4 linked regions of the Homo sapiens genome follow. The protein of the gene in region 3 interacts with the protein of the main gene of each other region in a biochemical or structural test. Each region holds a gene or a part of one and is shown on either strand. Other genes may lie near its edges. The genes, in order: UNC5A, VASP, MAGED1 and AP2B1.

Region 1 (4,125 bases), on a different chromosome or scaffold from region 3:
TTTTTATAGTAGACTTAAGAGGAAAGCAAAACATTTTTCATAACCCTTCTCTATCAAAAGTGGGAAACAAAAGACAGACCGAGAGAGGGCCTCGTGTCTCAAGAAATATAGGAGAGCTCATATCTCTTTGTGGAAGCAAGACCATCCCTTACATCGCCTAGCCTGCAGCGCCAATTTATATTATCGACCGGCCCCGTAGGCGTTTGAGTTTGCGACCCTGCCCTCACCCTGCTCATTCCCCTCCCGACCCAGACTAGGACCCTCTCTTTTTCCGATCACTCCCCCCAGGCACACCGCACGCGGCTGTCATTTCCTTTCTCCTTCAAGGCAGCCCTCTGTTTATTTTAACCCGATTAGGGAATGGGGGTGGGGCACAGGAGACTCCAGCAGCGGTCACTGCTGGAGGCTCCAGGAGACGACGTGACTTGACCAAGGTCACAGAGCTGGAAGGTGAAGTCGCCTGGACCCTACCCCCGGTCTCCCTAGCTGCCAAAGCCCAGCTCGTTCCTTTACACCCACGTCGCGGGCGCCGTGCGCTCTCGGGGCTCAAACACCGCGCGCCCAGTCGGGTGTGCTGCGCCTGAAGGTTGTTTTCCTTCGGCGAACGGCGCCGAGGGGTTAGGGAAACCTTGGGTCATGGTGTGAGGCGCGCCCCTGGAATCCACCAGCCTGCGAGGCTGGGACTGCGGGTGTCCCCGAGTCTGGCCTGCCAGCTCTGGTGGCCAGGGCACCTCTGCGCGCGGGCCAGGGCCCCGGGGCTCTCCCGCAGTCCCCTAACCAAGCCGCGGGCTGGCAGCGTACCGCGGCGCCCGGACGACCCCGGAGCGCGGCCGCGAGGAAAGGGCGGGGGAGAGGACTGCAGCGGAACCTGCCCGGGGCACCCCTGCCCTGGGCGGCTCTCCGCAGGCTGGCGCCGCGCCGGGGTCGCCGCAGCCCCGGGCCCCTCCCGGGCCACCTGTGCGCAGACTGGCGGGCCCGCGAGAGCCCGGATCCGGAGCACCGATCCACTCCGGGTTTCAGACTCCTGCCCCTGTCCCTGGAGACCCCGCGGGGCGGTGGGAGGCCTCCACGCCCACCACCCCAAGCCCCTCCCTGGGGGAGCCTCAGGCATCGCCCAGAGGGATTCCCGGTGCTGGGGGTGGCCCGCGCGCGCTGCGCGGGGCGGCCCGGCCCCTCCTTCCTTCCCCCGCCCCTCCCAGCCGCCGCCCCGCTCCGTCGCTCCAGTCCGGGTTTTGCGGCGCCCACCGGCCCGCTCTCCGGCTGCGGGCTCCGCGGCGCGGCTGGCTCGGTGCGCGGCGCGGCTGGCGCTGCGCTCCGCCCCGGCTGCATTGCTGCGCTCCCGTGCCCAAGGGAGCCACGCGCCGCGTGCGCCCGGCAGCCGGCCGCCCGGAGGCAGCGCAGTCCGCTGGCATGGGCCCCGGGGGCGCCCCGAGCTGGGGCTCCGGGCTGAGGCGCTAAAGCCGCCCTCCCGCCCGCGGGGCCCCGCGCCCGGCCCGCCCGCCTGCCCGCCCGCGGCCATGGCCGTCCGGCCCGGCCTGTGGCCAGCGCTCCTGGGCATAGTCCTCGCCGCTTGGCTCCGCGGCTCGGGTGAGTCACGCCGCGCGCGCTCTGGGGAGGCTTGCGGGGGACCGTGCGCGCGAACGCTCGCTGCTCTGGGGGTCCCTGACCAGCGCTGCCAGACCCGGCTGGGAGCCCCCCGAGGCCAAACTTTGCGAGGCGGGACGCGGGGGGCTCTTCTTGCTGCTGCGCAGCTTCCCCGCGCGCTCTCCCGGAAGCCTGGGTTCTGCCAAGTCCAGGAGCAGCTGTCAGCCCGCGGGGCTGGCGAGTGTAGACACCCCACGCCTCCGGGTGGGGGAAGTTTGCTGGTTGCCTGGGCCCGGAGCAGGGCTGGGGGTTTGGATCAACCCCAGGGAGCCTGACTTTGAGGATTCGAAGATTAGAGGGTTTTGAGCCTATCCCAGTGCCCAGGAAATGGGGGGTGCGGGGAACGTTTAAGATACCTCTTCCCGGTAGCATCTGCCCTAAACAGCCACTCACAATCTCCCAGCTTGGCACCTGGCCTCTGCCCACGTCCAGAACACAGTGTCCTCCTCTGTCCCCGCCACACACGCTCTCACACGCACACACTCAGGCGTGGAGGCGCATACACCAGCCCCCAGTCCTTGCAGCCAGCACAGTCAAAGCGCCGCGGTCCCGGTGGCCGGGGCTGTGGCTCCTGGCCTCCCTGGTGCGGGGGGCCAGAGTTGTGTGTGGTTGGTCCGCCAGTTTCCCCTTCTTCCTTAAACTCCATAGCCTTTCTTGGCCCCTGCATGCCCCATTGGTCACCCTAACCCACTGCTAACTCAGCCCTCAGCCCACCTCATTCCCTTGGGAGGGGCTTGGGGGGAGGAAGTTCCCCTGCATCCTTTGTCTGCTGTCCCTGAGCCTTCACCTAGGCTGAGCTGTGGGGGCCTCCTGATCTCTGCCCCCCATGCACTTAGCTGAGTTGAGCGTATGTGTCTGTGGTGGTGGGGGGTGGGTGCCATTTGTGTGGTCAAGGGGGCTTGAGGCTTACCCTGGCAATTCTCGATTCTTGCTGCCCCTAGAACCTGGGCGGTTACTCCCCAGCCTGGCCAGGCCGCTGCTTATAACAGGGGTGTTGGAAGGGAGCACTGGGGTTTCTGAGCTGCCAAACCAGATTGATCAGAGATCAATGAGTGGGAGCTCAGGAGCCAGCCTGATGATTGAGGCCGATGGCTGTTTCCTTAAAGGGTGTCTCTGCGCAGCGCATCCTGCACCCACCACTGCCTGACCGCCCGCCCCATCCTGCCTCCTCAGTACCCCTCTCTACTCCATCCCACCCCTTCTATCTCCCTTCTCCATCAGCACCCCTCTTCTTCCCCAGGGCCTCTCCTTCTAATCCTGACCAAGCTGAGAGGCTGAACTGCTGTTGGGTGTGTGTCCGTGTCCGCCACATGTGTGTGTTAGGGGCGTGTGTGCAGCTCCGCAGATGAGCACCCGGGTGCAGGTTGCACTGTTGTCCATGATGAGGTGGGGATATTAGTGCCCCACACACAGGTGGGGTGTTGCCTGACACCCAGTAGGTACCCTGGAAATGTTTTCTGAGTTGATGCTTTTGAGGGCTGTGTGGTCATAGCTGCATGTCGCCCACGTGAGCACGTGTGAAGGCTGTGGGTTGACATGTGTGCCCGGGTAACCAGGGGGGTTGGCATGGTGTGTGCAGCATTGGCATGTGTGTGCCCTGATGAACGTGTGTGATGACCAGCATGCCGCACGTGTGTGACGGCTGTGTGCAGTTGCACAGGTGAGCGTGTACAGATAAGGGGGCACAGGTACCGGTGAAGCAGGGTGCTGCGGCCTGGAGCGGGGGGTTGCCACAGGGACTCCTCAGGAGGCTGTGGGGGTGGGGAAACTGCATCCCTGGTTGGCAGGGCATCTGTTGAGGCCTGGCCCAAGGTTGCCCAGGGAGTCGGCAGGTGGGCACAGGTGCTGCAGGGGCTGACGCAGAGCCTGCCCCAAGGCATCAACTCTGCCCCTGGGCCTGCGGGAGGAGCTGCTGAAGGCCATGGGGTGGGGAGGGGCTGGCCCTACTTCTTTGGGACTCCCTTCCCCCTGTGCCCCACAGGCACTGGGCACATGTGGACGCCCAGGCAGGCTGGCCCTGCCGTGACCCGGGCTCCTCCCGCGCTGCCTTTTGCCTCCGTTGCAACAGCCTCCGGTGAAAAATGTGTCTGTGAGCCGCTGAGGGAGGGATGGCCAGCGGGCAGCAGGGGGCGCCGGGGGCCAGCGCGACTGACTGCAGCCGCTTGCTCCCCAGGCCACGCGCCCACCCTCTGTTGCTGGACATCACACAAAAGCCTGTCCCTTCAGCATGCTCGCACCTGCAGGCCCTCTCTGTGCCCGCGCACGCAAGCACCCATCTGTCTCACAGGATTTTCCCTCTCAAACCCCGTCACGCAGCTGGCATGCAAACCCCCACCCTGCCCCTGTGGTCTCCCTGTCACCCAGACCTCTGCAGTCTTGAGCAGGAGGGACTTGGGAGCTGGCTCCCTTGAAGATGGGGCTGAGGGGTGCCATGCTCTGGCATTGCTGCATTGCCCAACCTGACCCCAACCATCTAGCCTG
Region 2 (5,867 bases), on a different chromosome or scaffold from region 3:
GGGCTTGGTGGTGCATGCCTGTGATTCCAGCTACTCAGGAGGCTGAGGCGGAGAATGGCTTGAACCTGGGAGGCAGAGGTTGCGGTGAGCCGAGGACAGCCCGGGTGACAGAGTAAGACTCTGTCTCAAAAAAAAAAAAAAAAAAAAAAAGATTAGTCGGGTGTGGTGGTGCATGCTTGTAGTCCCAGCTACTTGGGAGGCTGAAGTGGGAGGATCGCTTGAGCTCAGGAGGTCGAGGCCACATTCCAACCTGGGTGACAGAGAGCAAGACTCTGTCTCAAAAACAAAAATAAAAATAATAATAATAATTATTATTATTAGAGATGGGGTCTCACTATGTTGCCCAGGCTGCTCTGAAATGCTTGGGCTCAAGTGATCCTCCTGCCTCAACCTCCAAAGTGCTGGGATTACAGGTGTGAGACACCACGCCAAGACCATCTTTATCTCTTTCTGTGTCTGCCTCTTCCTCCAGGTCCCCTGTCTGCCCATCCTTTTTCCCCACCCCTCCCCCATCTGTTCATCTGTCTGTCTGCCTTCAGTCTGTCTCTCCTCTTTGTCAACCCGACTCTCCCTTTCCCACCTCTCTCTGCGTCTGTCTCTTGCATCTCGTTTGTGTGTTTGCCTGTCTCTCCTGATCTGATTTTCTCTCCTGATCTGTCTCCCCCGTCTCCTTCTGTCCACGTGGCTCCTGCCTCCCTCTGTGTCACTCTCTTCCTTCCACACACTGTCTTTGTCCCTTGGAATCTCCCAGGAGAGACCCAGATAAGAAGGTGACCGGCCCCTCTCCCTTTTCCTCCCGCCTGCAGCGAGACGGTCATCTGTTCCAGCCGGGCCACTGTGATGCTTTATGATGATGGCAACAAGCGATGGCTCCCTGCTGGCACGGGTCCCCAGGCCTTCAGCCGCGTCCAGATCTACCACAACCCCACGGCCAATTCCTTTCGCGTCGTGGGCCGGAAGATGCAGCCCGACCAGCAGGTGCAGCTTCCCGCCGGCCCCCTCTGTGGGCTGAACCCCTACCCGCCCCACCCCTGCGCCCGCCGCCCCTCACCCCCCTTTCCCCTCCCACCAGGTGGTCATCAACTGTGCCATCGTCCGGGGTGTCAAGTATAACCAGGCCACCCCCAACTTCCATCAGTGGCGCGACGCTCGCCAGGTCTGGGGCCTCAACTTCGGCAGCAAGGAGGATGCGGCCCAGTTTGCCGCCGGCATGGCCAGTGCCCTAGAGGCGTTGGAAGGTCAGAAATGGCGGCGGGCAAAGGGGACCAGTGAATGCGGCTGTGTGGCCTGGGGCTGCCGCTTTACCCTGCTGGGACTTGGTTTACTCGTCGGTAAAATAGAGCGAATTCATTGTTATCATGGAAAATTATCACTAGCATTTTGTGCATTCCAGTGTGACCGTGTGCACCTATGTGTAAAATGCACCATTGGCCCGGCGCCGTGGCTCATGCCTGTAATCTCAGCACTTTGGGAGGCCGAGGCACACGGATTACCTGAGGTCAGGAGTTTCACCGTGCCCAACATGGTGAAATTGCGTCTCTATTAAAATTCAAAAATTAGCTGGGCGTGGTGGTGCGCGCCTGTAATCCCAGCTATTCGGGATGCTGAGGGACGAGAAGTGTTTGAACCCAGGAGATAGAGGTTGCAGTGAGCCGAGATCAGGCCACTGCACTTCAGCCTGGCGACAGAGCAAGATTCCGTCTCAGAAAGAAAACAAACACAAAAAAAATGCACGATTACTCAGGGATCAGTACTCCATGAACTTTACACAGGCACACTCCCGGGAAACCACCTCCCAGATCAAGACATAGGTAGGTCCTGCCCCAGAAACAGGATCTCGCTCTGTTGCCCAGGCTGGTGTGCACTGGCACAATCATGGCTCTCTGCAGCCTTCACCTCCTGGGCTCAAGTGATCCTCTTGCCTCAGCCTCCTAAGTAGCTGGGAATACAGGTGTGCACCACCATACTTGGCTCTTTTTTTGTTTTGTTTTTTGAGACAGAGTCTTGCTCTGTCACCCAGGCTGGAGTGCAGTGGTGCAACCTCAGCTCACTGCAACCTCCACCTCCCGGGTTCGCGTGATTCTCGTGCCTCAGCCTCCTGAGTAGCTGGGATTACAGGCATGTGCCACCATGCCCAAGCTATTTTTTTGTATTTTGTTTTTATTTTTATTTTTTTGAGACAGAGTCTCACTCTGTTGCCCAGGCTGGAGTGCAGTGGCACGATATTGCCTCACTGCAACCTCCGCCTCCCGGGTTCAAGCGATTCTCCTGCCCTAGCCTCCCGAGTAGCTGGGACTATAGGCGTGAGCCACCACACCCGGGTAATTTTTTGTATCTTTAGTAGAGACAAGGTTTCACCGTGTTAGCCAGGATGGTCTCTATCTCCTGACCTTGTGATCCGCCCGCCTAGGCCTCCCAGAGTGCTGGGATTACAGGCATGAGACACCATGCCCGGCCCTTGTATTTTAGTAGAGAAGGGGTTTCACCATATTGGCCAGGCTGGTTTCAAACTCCTGGCCTCAAGTGATCCACCTGCCTCTGCCTCCCAAAGTGCTGGGATTATAAGTGTGAGCCACCATGTCTGGCCACCTGGATCATTTCAAATTTTTTTTTTTTTTTTACTTTTTGTGGAGATGGTCTACAGGCTGGTCTTGAACTCCTGGGCTCAAGTGATCCTCCCACTTCAGCCTCCTAAAGTGCTGGGATTACAGGCATGAGCCACTACACCCAGCCCAGTTGCTTTTTTTTTTTTTTTTTGGAGACGGAGTCTCGCTCTGTCCCCAGGTTGGAGTGCAGTGGCGCGATCTCCGCTCGCTGCAAGCTCTGCCTCCCGGGTAAATGCCATTCTCCTGCCTCAGCCTCCCGAGTAGCTGGGACTACAGGCACCCGCCACCACATCCAGCTAATTTTTTGTATTTTTAGTAGAGACGGGATTTCACCGTGTTAGCCAGGATGGTCTCGATCTCCTGACCTCGTGATCCGCCCGCCTCGGCCTCCGAAAGTGCTGGGATTACAGGCGTGAGCCACTGCGCCCGGCCTTTTTTTTTTTTTTTTTTTTTTTTTTTTAATATGGAGTCTCACTCTGTCTCTCAGGCTGGAGTGCAGTGGTGTGATCTCAGTTCACTGCAACCTCCGCCTCCTGAGTTTAAGCAATTCTGCCTCAGCCTCCTGAGTAGATGGAACTATAGGTGTGCACCAACATGCCTGTCTAATTTTTGTAGTTTTAGTAGAGACGGGGTTTCGCAGTGTTGGCCAGGCTGGTCTCGAACTCCTGACCTCAGGTGATCCACTCGCCTCGGCCTCCCAGAGTGCTGAGATTACAGGCGCGAGTCACGCGCCCAGCCCAGTTGCTATTTCTTAAACCTTAACGTGCACATGAATCACCTGGGGATCTGGTTAAAGTGCAGGCTCTGGTGCAGGTGGGCTGGGCGGACTGAGACTCCACATTCTCACAAGTGCCCTGGTGATACCCAGGCTGCTGGTCTGCGGACGTGACTGAGTAGTGAGGTTTTAGGTGACTGCCGTGCATCTGGCCTGGAATCACTGCTGTAGAACTGAAAGTCACCAAATGCAGGGGTGTTTGCTTCGTGGGACAACTTCTGTGCTAGTGCGGAAGGGGCTTGCTCCTCTGGGGCACACAGAAAAATACAGTGGGCTTCAGTTGAGTCATCTGTAAATTGGGGCTAATTCATTGTTAATTCGTAGCCAATTCAATTCAGGTGCTAGGGCCAGAGGCCTGGAGGTAGGTGAGGAAGAAGCTCTTTACCTTTCCAGGTTCTTAGGTAAGGTCCAAGTGGCTGTAACAGTGGTTAAGAGCTAGCCAGGGGCCAGGTGCGGTGGCTCACGCCTGTAATCTCAGCACTTTGGGAGGCTGAGGCAAGTGGATCACTTGAGGTCAGGAGTTCGAGACCAGCCTAGCCAACATGGTGAAATCCCATCTCTATTAAAAATACAAAAATTAGCCAGGCATGGTGGCAGGCGCCTGTAATCCCAGCTACTCAGGAGGCTGAGGCAGGAGAATCTCTTGAACCCGGGAGGTGGAGGCTGTGGTGAGCCGTGATTGCACTGCTGCACTCCAGCCTGGGTGACAGAGTGAGACTCTGTCTCGAAACAAACCAACAGTGGTTAAGAGCCTGGCTGCTGGAATCAGCCTGAATTCAAGTCTTGTTCCTGCACATTCCACCCTGGAGAAATCTGGGGCAAGTGACTGTTCCCCGGGCCTTAGCTTCTCCTGTCACTGGGACATCACAACAGCACCTACCTTAGGGCAACTCAGGCCAGGGAAGTTGGTGCTGCCTCACCTCCCAATGTGCGTCCTCCTGGGCCTGGAGCCTCAGGGCCTCTGGAAGGAGGAAGTGAGCGCCTCTGGGCAGGATTCCTGGGAGGCCTGGGAGAGCAAGGGAAGCGCCAAGAGCTGAGCAGAGTTCTGGGACTGATCCATGGCCCTTTCTCTCTCACCTTTCAGGAGGTGGGCCCCCTCCACCCCCAGCACTTCCCACCTGGTCGGTCCCGAACGGCCCCTCCCCGGAGGAGGTGGAGCAGCAGAAAAGGTGGGGCTGGGCCCTGGGTGGGGAACCTTAGCCGCTGCCAGAGTTCCATATGTTCTGGAACCCTTGACTCCTAGAGTTCAGAACCCAGCCAACTTGCAGTTTTCAGAATGTTCAAGAAACTTCTGACACTCAGAGTTGCAGAACCTCCTGGTCCCTGCAGATTCCTGGAAATCAGAATATGGTGGTTGAAAGAATCTTGTGGCTGGGCGTGGTGGCTCACGCCTGTAATCCCAGCACTCTGGGAGGCCGAGGCGGGCAGATCGCCTGAGGTCAGGAGTTTGAGACCAGCCTGGCCAACATGGCGAAATCCCGTCTCTACTGAAGATAACAAAAATTAGCCGGTCATGGTGGCGCCCGTGCCTGTAATCCCAGCTCGGCAGGCCGAGGCAGGAGAATCGCTTGAACCCGGGAGGCAGAGGTTGCAGTGAGCCAAGATCGAGCCACTGCACTCCAGCCTGGGTGACAGAGTCTCAAAAAAAAAAAAAGAAAAGAAAGAATCTTGGGCATTTTGTAATTCGGTGTTCCTGACAGTTTAGTGACTGGGATCTCGCATCCTGATCTCTCCCTGTCGCTGCCCTGCCCTCCATTCCCCCTACTCTCACCCAGCCCCCTTCTTGGTTCCCTAGGGGAGGAAGGCTTGGGTGAGTATTAGGAGCCAGCCACCCTGGAGACCTCTGAGAGAGAGGACGGAGGTCGCTGGCCCCTTCGCTGGCCATCCTTAGGGCCCTGATTGACGGCAGCTCTCTCGCCTCCCCCCACAGGCAGCAGCCCGGCCCGTCGGAGCACATAGAGCGCCGGGTCTCCAATGCAGGTGATGCTCAGATAGCTTCGGGAGTTGGGAGGGGGCCTCCCTGGAGGAAGTGGCCAGCCAGCTGGACAGTGAAGAATGAGGCTTCTCTCTCTCAGCTGCCCCCTTTTCTGTGTTTGTTTCAGGAGGCCCACCTGCTCCCCCCGCTGGGGGTCCACCCCCACCACCAGGACCTCCCCCTCCTCCAGGTCCCCCCCCACCCCCAGGTTTGCCCCCTTCGGGGGTCCCAGCTGCAGCGCACGGAGCAGGGGGAGGACCACCCCCTGCACCCCCTCTCCCGGCAGCACAGGGCCCTGGTGGTGGGGGAGCTGGGGCCCCAGGCCTGGCCGCAGCTATTGCTGGAGCCAAACTCAGGAAAGTCAGCAAGGTGAGGGGCCGGGAGAGGTGGGCAGGGGGCAACAGGGCTTTTATGGGGGATGAGGCCAGGGCTGCCGGCGGTGTCATTGGGCTGGAAGGCCAAAAGGCCTGCCCCTAAAGCTCCTGCCCCTTTTAAATTTCTCCAGCAGGAG
Region 3 (5,483 bases):
TGGATGGTCCCAGGATTGCATTAACCTGGGGGTCTGGAGGGTTTGGTTTGGGGATGTTCAGAGCCCAAAGATGTGACCTGGGTGGATGGGGAAACAGTTCTGAACTCTCTGCCTCTTTTCTCATCTCTGACCTCTGTTCTGGAAAGCTCTTTGGGCATGGTAATAGCCTCTGATTGTGGGTTTCCTTTTTTTACCTTCAGGGTGAGACATCCCCTCCTTGGAGATCTAAGGAAACTTCTCACCTATGAGTTTGTAAAGCAGAAGTAAGTGATGCCTAAGGGGCTTTTCCTGCTTCTTATGATTCTGCCTGTGTGCTGGTCAGCTTTAGAAAGCCCTTCCTGGCTGGATACAATGGCTCATGCCTGTAATCCCAGTACTTTGGGAGGCTCAGGTGGGCAGATCGCTTGAGCCCAGGAGTTCAAGACCAGCCTGGGCAACATAACGAAACCCCATCTCTACAAAAAAATACAAAAATTAGCCAGGCGTGGTGACATGCACCTGTAGTCCCAGCTACTTGGGAGGCTGAGGTAGGGGAGAATCATCTGAGCCCAGGAAGTTGAGGCTGCAGTGAGCTGTGATCATGCCACTGCACTCCAACCTGGGCAACAGAGTGAGACCCTGTCTCAAAAAAAATAAAAGAAAGCCCTTCTCAAGCTCGTTTCTTACACTATACTTGTGCATATGTGTTTCTGTGCATACAGAAACACTTATGTCCTCAGGAGTATTTATTGCATATACTCCTCATGGTTAAATTCTTTATTTTTTATTTTTTTATTTTTTGAGACGGAGTTTCGCTCTTGTTGCCCAGGCTGGAGTGCAATGGCGTGATCTCGGCTCACCGCAACCTCTGCCTCCTGGGTTCAAGCTATTCTCCTGCCTCAGCCTCTTGAGTAGCTGGGATTACAGGCATGTGCCACCACGCCCACCTAATTTTGTCTTCTTAGTAGAGACGGTGTTTCTCCATGTTAGGCTGGTCTCAAACTCCCGACTTCAGGTGATCTGCCTGCCTTGGCCTCCAGAAGTGCTGAGATTACAGGCGTGAGCGACCGTACCGGGCGAATTCTTTTGTTTGTTTTTTTCGAGACTGAGTCTCACTCTGTTGCCCATGCTGGAGTGCAGTGGTGCAATCTTGGCTCGCTTGAACTTCCACCTCCCAGGTTCAAGCAATTCTTGTGCCTCAGCCTCCCGAGTAACTGGAACTTCAGGTGCGTGCCACCGTGCCCGGCTGTTTTTGTATTTTTAGTAGAGATGGGGCTTCACCACGTTGGCCAGGCTGGTCTCAAACTCCTGACCTGAAGCAATCCACCCACCTCTGCCTCCCAAAGTGCTGGGATTACAGGTGTGAGCCACCACACCCGGCCAGAATTTTTCTAATTTTTCTACTTTTCTAAGCAGTTGTCTTGCAAGTGAAGCCCATCCACCATCCCCACAGTAGACATTCCCAAGGCTGGGCCAGGCTGACACTTTTGCACTGCATTGTACTCATTTCAATGGACCTCTGTGGCTCACTGACAAGATTACAAGAATCTGGAGCTAGAGCTGAGGCAGAAGGAGTGAAAGGAAATGTTGTCCTTTCTGTGACCCTATACAAGCCTCGCCTGCATCTCTAGTGAGTGCTTAGCGTTCTAGTGCAGGAATTTAAGGCTTGATGATTAAGGGGTAAATACCCTGATGGTGTTCAGGAATGAGCCCAAGGGGGAGTTGCTATCTGAAATCTGTTAAAAAATGTAAGATTATTTTTCATTAGTGGACTACCATTCTGCCTGGGTAGGTAGACACAAAGACTGTTTTGCTCTTTCAGATACCTGGACTACAGACGAGTGCCCAACAGCAACCCCCCGGAGTATGAGTTCCTCTGGGGCCTCCGTTCCTACCATGAGACTAGCAAGATGAAAGTGCTGAGATTCATTGCAGAGGTAATGGAGGAACTGTTCCAGCATTGATAGGTCAAGGGATGAAGTATAGCTGGCTGGGAAAGGCCCAGGGTAGGAATGAGATCCTAGGTGTGGCAGGTGGTAGGTGCCGCATTGCTGGTGGTATTTGTTGTTGCTGTTAGGTAAACTTAACATGTATTAGGTGCTAACATATGTTAATATATTAGCTAATACAATTATGAGTTTGTTTTGGGTTTTTTTTTAGGTTTTTAAAGTATTTTTATTTTTTCCCAACTTTACTAAATTATAATTGACAAAAATTGTATATATTTGTGGTGTACAATGTAATTTTTAAGTATTTTGTTTTATTTATTTATTTATTTGTTTTCTCCCGAGATGGAGTTTTGCTGTGTTGCCCAGGCTAGAGTGCAGTGGCGCAATCTTGGCTCACTGCAACCTCTGCCTCCCAGGTTAAAGCGATTCTTGTGCCTCAGCCTCCCAAGTATCTGGGATTACAGGCACGTGCCACCACCATGCCTGGCTAAATTTTTATTTTTCTATTAGAGACAGGGTTTTGCCATGTTAGCCAGGCTGGTCTCAAACTCCTGACCTCAAGTGATCTGCCTGCCTCAGCCTCCCAAAGTGTTGGGATTACAGGCGTGAGCCACCGTACCCGGCCCATTCATTTATTTTTAACTGACTAATAAAAAATATACATATTTATGGGGTACAGTATGATGTTTTGATAATACATGTACATTGCAGAATGATTACATCAAGCTAGTTAACTCTCCATAGCCTCATATACTTGACATTTTTTTTGTGATGAGAACATTTAAAATGTACTCTTTTAGCAATTTTAAATAAACGACACATTATTATTAACTATAGTCGTCATGCTATACGGTTGATCTCCAGAACATATTCTTCCTATCTAAATGAAACTTTGTACCTTTTAACCGATATCTCCCTATCCCTCCTGACCCCAGGCCCTGGAAACTACCATTCTACTCTCTGCTTCTATGAGTTAGACGTTTTTAGATTCCATGTATAAGTGAGGTCATGCAGTATTTGTCTTTCTGTGTCTGGCTTATTTCACTTAGCATAATGTCATCCAGCATCATCTATGTTGTTGCAAATGGCAGAATTTCCTTCTTTTTAAAGGCTGAATAGTATTCCATTGTGTGTGTGTGTATCACATTGTCCTTATCCATTCATCCACTGATGGACAGGTAGGTTGATTCCATATCTTGGCTATTGTAAATGGATTTTGTTTTGTTTTCTATTCCTCATCTCAGGTTCAGAAAAGAGACCCTCGTGACTGGACTGCACAGTTCATGGAGGCTGCAGATGAGGCCTTGGATGCTCTGGATGCTGCTGCAGCTGAGGCCGAAGCCCGGGCTGAAGCAAGAACCCGCATGGGAATTGGAGATGAGGCTGTGTCTGGGCCCTGGAGCTGGGATGACATTGAGTTTGAGCTGCTGACCTGGGATGAGGAAGGAGATTTTGGAGATCCCTGGTCCAGAATTCCATTTACCTTCTGGGCCAGATACCACCAGAATGCCCGCTCCAGATTCCCTCAGACCTTTGCCGGTCCCATTATTGGTCCTGGTGGTACAGCCAGTGCCAACTTCGCTGCCAACTTTGGTGCCATTGGTTTCTTCTGGGTTGAGTGAGATGTTGGGTAGGTACATCACTTTGGATTGGGCAGTTAGGGTCTCTGGGGGATATAGGGTCCATGGGGTTGTATTTATGTGCATGAGCTAGAAGTATTAGGAAACTCATTGTAGGGAGATGAGGAAAGTATGGGGCAGCACTCTTTGGTATGTATATTCCTTATTATTTGATATATATCATTGATTTTTTTACTTCTTCTTTCTTATGTTCACAGATATTGCTATCAATCGCAGTAGTCTTTCCCCTGTGTGAGGCTGAAGCCTCAGATTCCTTCTAAACACAGCTATCTAGAGAGCCACATCCTGTTGACTGAAAGTGGCATGCAAGATAAATTTATTTGCTGTTCCTTGTCTACTGCTTTTTTTCCCCTTGTGTGCTGTCAAGTTTTGGTATCAGAAATAAACATTGAAATTGCAAAGTGAATTAGATGTGCTCTCTGCTTCTTTTTTTCCCTATATTTGGGGAGCGAGCAACATGTTTATGTGGGAGAGACAGGACCTCAGCTGTAGTTTGAAGGGTAGATCAGCTTTCAGCAGGTGGAAATGTGGGAAGATCTAGCTACTGGATTGGGATACAAAGGCAGGATCAATGAACACGAGACCCAAGAACTAGTATAGTTTATTCAATAAATATCACTTAAGTGACTCTCATGTGATAGATATGCTGCTAGGTGTCTTGGAGTGACATTGCGAGAAGTCGCATAGTGAGAGAGGGTATTGGTGCTCAGACAGTTGCACTTAAGAACACAGAGGAGGTGGAGCTCCAGGTGATGATAAGGTCCAGAGAGTAGGTAGTTGAAGGGGACAGAAGGTGACTATTCTGGAGATAAGGGGTCCATGGCCTGTGATTCTAGGGTGTTGGTTATACAACCCATGTGGAAAGTGAAAGAACTCCAGGAGGGCAGCAGGAGTAGGAGTAGAGAACACTATGAGTTAGATGCCAGAGTCTCCTCTGTGAGAAGGAAGATATACCCCTAGCCACATTGCTCATAAAGGGATGGGCTCACAGGCACTCCTCCCCATCTCTGGAAATGCTGCCCAGGATCCTGTCCCTCTAGGAGGCCCTCACAATCTTCCCACTTGCACAGGACCGGGGCTGCCTCCTCGAGACAGGATCTTATGGGCAGTGAAGGAGGCCTCACAATGGCCTCTTCTCTCCTGCAGGGAGAAAGAGAAGACTTTGTTACCTCAAGAACAAGAATTACAAAGTAAGACAAAGCTCCATGCACAGGCTTTGACTGTGACTGTGAGCAGGAACTTGGCTTGAGCTGCTGAGTTCTATGCTGGAAGCAAGGCTCTCCCACTGAGGACAAAATTAGGCCTAGGCCATGACTTCCTTGGGTGCTTGGTGGTATCTGGACATGTGGACAAGGGCAGAGACGGGAGCTCCTGGGGCACAAAAAAGAGCAAAGGCAATTTGGCCTCCTGGGAAGGGTTTGGTAGTGGGTAGGGATGGTGTCCACAGCTTCCTTAGGTTCCTGAGTGATGTCCACATTCTGAGGAGAGAGCCCAGGATTAATAGGAAGGAGACAGCAGTGCAGGGCCCCAACGCCTCCCCTGCCTGTTGTCCTCATTGCCAGGCTCCCCTCTTTCAGCCAGGCCTGGATCCTGACCCTCAGGTAGGCCTGGAGGAAATCTCAGCCTGAGGCCTTTTTGGCAGGGATTGCACCAGCCCTGCATCTCCATGATGCCTCAGGTCTGGGCTGTAGTTCCTGCATTTCTGGGTGCTGTTTTTTCCACCTTTTGGTGCAAAACACCCAGGCTCGGTGGGGTTGGGGCAGTCTTTCTGTGGAGAAGGTGCTTCCACCATGTGCTGTGTCCACAGCCAGCTTGGGTAATGGAGTCCCCCACCTACCTCAGGCTTCTCCCGGTGTGTGTTCACGGCCTCCACATTCAGGTGGACGGACTCCACCTTGCAGCCTTGGAAAAGAAC
Region 4 (5,867 bases), on a different chromosome or scaffold from region 3:
GCATAAGCCACCATGCCTGGCCACCTGGAGAACCTTTAAAATCCTCACACCCAGACCATATCCAGGACAACTGAAATCAGGCTGAGGTTGAGACCCAGGCATCAGTATTATTTCAAAGTTCCCTGGCTGAGCAATTCTGATGTGTTGCCAAGACTGAAAGCTACAGACAACAAACTGACATAATTAAGCAACTCACTGCAACAAGAGAAAAAGAAGAATGGTAGTTGGCGCCATGTCTGGAATACTTTGGTAAATGTAAGGACTCCTGAACACAAAAGCACAGAATTCTGATCCTAAGCAACAAATAAAGCAAGCTAAGCTACAGGCACAATAAGCTGAGATGGGCTAAAATGTTTGTCTTTGATGGGAAGACCCTCCACATTTCTAGAAATGATCTATTTTATTTAGGAACAATTTTACAAAAGATGAAGGGTTGGACTTTCCCCAGAAGAATCCTTTGTTCCTAGACCCAAACTCATAGGTAAAAACAAGCATTATATTACTGATAACAAAGATGATGAGAGTAATAAGTGCAAAGTCCCTCAAGTAATTCCGTCTATGACCTAAAAACCATAGATGGCTCTAGAGATTCCGTTTTAAATATACATCTAGACGAAGAACATGGTAGATGTATATGGACGGATATGAAAATAACTCATTTCTATTCATTGTTTTGCAAGATTGCTTTTTCATTAAAGATAAAAAAATTTTAAATCATATGTATTAATATATGCACTCATATGCAGAGAAAAAGACTTGAGGATATACACCAAGTTCCCTTGGGAATAGGAACAGGAAGGGAGAACTTTCATTTTTACCTTTTACATACATATCTGTATTGCTTTAATTGTATTCTTTGTTATAAAATGTTTATTTCCAAGTAAAAATTATTTAATAAAAGGGAAAAAGTATGCTGCTTCTTTTGTCCTCCTCACACTTAACCAATCTCCAATGGATCATCTCAAACAGCAAAGAGGAGTCTCTTTCACTAAACAGAACCTTCAAGTCATAATAATGTGCATCACAGCCCTCTCTTTTAAAACCTACTCTTTAATAACTTGCTTGAATACATTCATCTATAGAAGTAGTAGATGTCCAGTGAGATTGTCAGCTACATGTATGTCTGAAGGAAGAGGTCAGCAGCATTCTGCCTGGGGCAATCTTACACTACAACTTTTGAAAATTTCAAAAGATTTGATTGTATTCTCATACTTACCTTTTTTATTGGTTGTGAAATACTTGGAGTCAGTCATGACTTTGGATCTTTAATGTGCACCTATAGCAAGAGAAAAGAATTCCTTCATTCAGGTTATAGATATCCAACAAGGCATCCAATTAATTTTAAGAACATCCAATTAATTTTAGGAACACTTATATTTAAGAATTTCTAAAAATGAGTATCATCTTCCTTTATCACCACCGTTGATGGTTCAAGAAAAACTAAGAATGTAACTCCTCAAGCTAATGGGGCAAAAATCTAAAGGCCAAATGCAACTGGGTAAAAGTATGAACCTATTATGGCTTTGTGATTTTATCCACAGTAACTCCTCAAAGCTTTCAAGAGCTAAAGCTGGACCTTTTTATAAATATATCTGCAATTACTTTCCATTCAGGAAAATCTGGTAACTTCCTTGCCTCAAGCTGGAATCACTCCAAAACATATATTCTGAAGCAGTGTAAGGTCAAAAGAAAAAACAATTTTGCCGATCTATGACATGAAACTTTCAATAAAAAGAATCTCTTTCAGAAAAAAAAAATTCAAAATTAGTAGGACAATATTCTTTCACAACAAACATCTAGAGAGGCAACCATGACTTATGCATGGAATTTTTTTAATTTTTAGTTTTGTGGGTATTTAGTAGGTGCGTATAGGTACATGAGATATTTTGATAACAGGCAGACAATGCATAATAATTACATTAGTGTAAATGGGATATCCATCACCTCAAGCATTTATCCTTTCTTTGTATTATAAACAATTCAATTACATTCTTTTAGTTATTTTTAAATGTACAGTAAATTATTGTTGACCGCAGTCACCCTTTTGTGCTATCAAATACTAGATCTTATTCATTGTATCTAACTATATTTTTGGATTTAAAAAAAAATGTGGCTTTCTTACTTCCAACAATCCAGATTTAGCCCAAGAGTATTCCCAAATAATGCCAGTTTATAGTTAAAAACAAGGCAAAAGACTGAGACATCCGTTCAGACACGAGAATCAAACTGGTGTTGAAACAAAAGAACGTGGATCTCAACCTCAACCTTAACTCTTCCATCCCAATTTCCAGAAGAAGTAATCCAGATGACAAATGGCTCTACTAACAAAAACGGCACAGTCTGGTCACATTTTTACTAAATAATAAGACTACTTTTTCTGATTTGAGAAACTATAAGACTTTGTCCAATGTACCAGACTTCTTTAAATATATTAAAATTTTGGGGCCAGGCACAGTAGCTCACGCCTGTAATCCCAGCACTTTGTGAGGCTGCCGGGTGGATCACTTGAGGTCAGGAGTTCAAGACCAGCCTCGCCAACATGGTGAAATCCTGTCTCTGCTAAAAATACAAAATTTAGCTGGGCATGGTGGCACGTGCCTTTAATCCCAGCTACTTGGGAGGCTGAGGCAGGAGAATCGCTTGGACCTGGGAGGCGGAAGCTGCAGTAAGCCGAGATCACGCCACTGCACTCCAGCCTGGGCAACAGAGCAAAAGTCCATCTCAAATAAATAAATAAATAAATAGGAATTTGGGCCAGGCGCGGTGGCTCAGGCATGGTGGCATGTACCTGTAGTCTCAGCTACTTGGGAGGCTGAGGTGTGTGGATCGCTTGAGCTTAGGAGATCAAGGCTACAGGGAGCTATGATCTCACCACTGCACTCCAGCCTCAGCGACAGAGACCTTGTCTCAAGGGGAAAAAAATATATAAATATACATATATTTTTTAATAATATTCCTTCTGTACTCAAAATGAGTATCTTTTTCCTTATCACCATCACTAATAATACTTATCACCAACTTCAGGACAAGACATGCTGGCACCTGCTCATTATTATCAGGTCAATATGACATAATGTATTTGGCAAACAATAGTAAATATGGATCTAGGAGAAAAGACCTAAGCACCAAACAAATCAATGTAATTAAAGAAAAGAAAAAAGAGCCAGATAAACATAAAATAATGAAAAACTTCTGGTTCAAATCTGATCTCTAAAACGTGCTACTTGTACAGTTTAATGGAAATTAGACTCATTTGCTATCTTTCCAACCAGCTAATTACTATTTATAGTCTTGATCCTAATAGCTCTTTAGATTGTACCAGAAATTCACAGAATGATCTTGTTAAAAGAAGTGAGCTAGGACTCACAAATATCATTACAGAATATAGAAATTTCTCCTTTAATACTTGTTATAATTAAAAATTATACTGAAGCTTGCCTTATGCAATGTTTTTACAATGTGTTTCTAGCAAAAATTCAAAGAATGTTATAATCATTTAGTCCATTCATAATGTAAACTAAATGTGAAGTGGGCAAATGAAGAAAGGAATTCTTCACATAAAAGACCTGGAATAAATCTGAAGTTATTTATGAATGTATATATACAAACAGAAAAACCAGTAAACAGAAACGATTACTTGAGCCTCAAAGAAGGACTATAGCTCAAATCCATTACAATCTGTCTAGGATATTTACTATGCTATGCTATGTCCTTTAAAACTTGTTTAAGATTTTAAAACAAAACCTCCTTAGAATTTGTCACCCAATTTCTCTGAAAAGCCTCTTATACATACACATATTAAATTTTTTTTGGCCAGGCACGGTGGCTCACGCCTGTAATCCCAACACTTTGGGAGGACGAGGCGTGCGGATGGCTTGAGCTCAGGAGATCGAGACCAGTCTGGGGAACGTGGCGAAACTCCGTCTCTAATAAAAATACAAAAATTAGCCGGGCATGGTAGCACATGCCTGTAGTCCCAGCTGGGACTCACTGCAACATCTGCCTTCTGGGCTCAAGCAATCCTCCTGCCTCAGCCTCCCGAGTAGCTGGGACTACATGTTGGGATCACCGTGCCCAGCCCATTAAATTCTTTTTTTTTTTTTTTTTTTTTTGAGACAAAATCTCACTGTGGCCCAGGCTCCAGTGCAGTGGTTCAATTTGGGCTCACTCCAACCTTTGCCTCCCAGGTTCAAGTGATTCTCCTGCCTTAGCCTTCAGAGTAGCTGGGACTACAGGCACCCACTACCACGCCCAGCTAATTTTTGTATTTTAGTAGAGACAGGGTTTTTCCTTGTTAGCCAGGCTGGTCTGGAACTCCTGACATCAAGTTATCCATCCACCTCGGCCTCCCAAAGTGCTGGGATTACAGGCATGAGTAAATTCTTAACAGGCATTTTCACTACATTCTATTAAACAATAAATTAACCTAAGTCTTAAGTCATACCTTTATCAGTAGCTCACATATTTCATTATCTCCCCTAACAATTTCAATGTCAAGGAATATATTACTATCCTGTTCACTGTGAGCATTAAGTGTTCTTGTCTTAACTAGAAAATAATGCACCCACCCACAAAATTTCAGGGAAGAGAGGAGGGTCAAGTATCTTTAGAAGCCTATAAGATAGATTCTAAATTAAGAGTCCCTGCTGCTCTAAAGAGAAGGGATATCACTCTAGTAACCATATTGTAAACAATAGTAACAAAATATTCCCTAACCATATTGGCAGAGAAACATGGTGCCAAGCTGGTTCTTGCCTTAAGCCAAAAGAAACTCCAAGAAAAATGAAAATAGTGTAAATAAAAACAAATCAGAAGACATGATTGTTGCACAACACTGTCAGTGTACTAAATGCCACTGAACTGTATGCCTTAACCTGGTTAATTTTATGGTACGTGAATTTCACCTCAAAAAAAAATCACATATATATATGATTCAGTGTATCTCTCATATAATGAGTTCTCACCTCATATAATGAGAGATACACTTAATCACATGCTAGATATGGACATAGCCAGAGTCTCCAAAATACAGGATGGCAAAAACTGACGTCTTCATTAGAAGTTACAGCCGGTCGCGGTGGCTCACGCCTGTAATCCCAGCACTTTGGGAGGCGGGCGGATCACAAGGTCAGGAGATCGAGACCATCCTGGCTAACACGGTGAAACCCTGTCTCTACTAAAAATACAAAAAATTAGCCAGGCGTGTGGCGGGCGCCTGTAGTCCCAGCTACTCGGGAAGCTGAGACAGGAGAATGGTGTGAACCCAGGAGGCAGAGCTTGCAGTGAGCCGAGATCGCGCCACTGCACTCCAGCCTGGGCGAAAGAGTGAGACTCCGTCTCAAAAAAAAAAAAAAAAAAAGAAGTTACAGAAAAAGTAAACAAAATAGAGCTAAAGAAAAAAAAAATCTAATATTTGCTGAAGTGCCTCAAAAATCAAGCTGCTCCTATGGGGGGAGAAAATGTTCCTTCAGAAGAGCCAGAGAAATAAGCAAAGCCATGATGGAATTTGAACTCACACTACCTTTCTACCAGATCAAACCAGACAAGTAACGGCTGTTCTGAGGATTTACGGTATGGCCTAAGGCCACTGTTAAACAACAAAGCTGCCAGAGTCAAAGCACATAATCACTCTTACTTGCCCTCGACCAGAGTGTGATGTCACTGCATTTCGGAGAAGGCCTCCCTGCACAGGACTATATATCCAGATTTAACATAACCTAGTTTCTACCAAATATAGGTTGTCAAAGTCCCTCCTCTCCTATATCTCCCTCCAGTTCCCCAAAAGAGAAACTGAGCAGCAAAATAAGATTAATACCTTGGGTAGAATAAGGTCAGAAAAAAATTAATAGGGTCTTAATTCAAATGGC

Evidence for each region.
Region 1: the proteins of MAGED1 (region 3) and UNC5A form a complex in vitro, tested with the Homo sapiens proteins (one study listed by BioGRID).
Region 2: the proteins of MAGED1 (region 3) and VASP interact in a test that uses a peptide from one of them, tested with the Homo sapiens proteins (one large-scale study listed by BioGRID and IntAct).
Region 4: the proteins of MAGED1 (region 3) and AP2B1 interact in a surface display test, tested with the Homo sapiens proteins (one large-scale study listed by IntAct).

The regions. Positions count from the first base shown.
Region 1 is NC_000005.10:176,809,234-176,813,358, forward strand, and holds the start of UNC5A (netrin receptor UNC5A precursor), read left to right. Parts: upstream 1-1,325; 5' UTR 1,326-1,517; coding exon 1,518-1,587; intron 1,588-4,125. UniProt on the Homo sapiens protein: Receptor for netrin required for axon guidance. Functions in the netrin signaling pathway and promotes neurite outgrowth in response to NTN1. Mediates axon repulsion of neuronal growth cones in the developing nervous system in response to netrin.
Region 2 is NC_000019.10:45,516,857-45,522,723, forward strand, and holds part of VASP (vasodilator-stimulated phosphoprotein), read left to right. Parts: intron 1-806; coding exon 807-978; intron 979-1,072; coding exon 1,073-1,238; intron 1,239-4,093; exon of another isoform or gene 4,094-4,387; intron 4,388-4,465; coding exon 4,466-4,550; intron 4,551-5,311; coding exon 5,312-5,361; intron 5,362-5,483; coding exon 5,484-5,725; intron 5,726-5,861; coding exon 5,862-5,867. UniProt on the Homo sapiens protein: Ena/VASP proteins are actin-associated proteins involved in a range of processes dependent on cytoskeleton remodeling and cell polarity such as axon guidance, lamellipodial and filopodial dynamics, platelet activation and cell migration.
Region 3 is NC_000023.11:51,898,381-51,903,863, forward strand, and holds the end of MAGED1 (melanoma-associated antigen D1), read left to right. Parts: intron 1-200; coding exon 201-263; intron 264-1,801; coding exon 1,802-1,916; intron 1,917-3,172; coding exon 3,173-3,550; 3' UTR 3,551-3,558; intron 3,559-3,765; 3' UTR 3,766-3,974; downstream 3,975-5,483. UniProt on the Homo sapiens protein: Involved in the apoptotic response after nerve growth factor (NGF) binding in neuronal cells. Inhibits cell cycle progression, and facilitates NGFR-mediated apoptosis. May act as a regulator of the function of DLX family members.
Region 4 is NC_000017.11:35,589,417-35,595,283, reverse strand, and holds part of AP2B1 (AP-2 complex subunit beta), read right to left. Parts: intron 1,277-5,867; 5' UTR 1,254-1,276; coding exon 1,217-1,253; intron 1-1,216. UniProt on the Homo sapiens protein: Component of the adaptor protein complex 2 (AP-2). Adaptor protein complexes function in protein transport via transport vesicles in different membrane traffic pathways.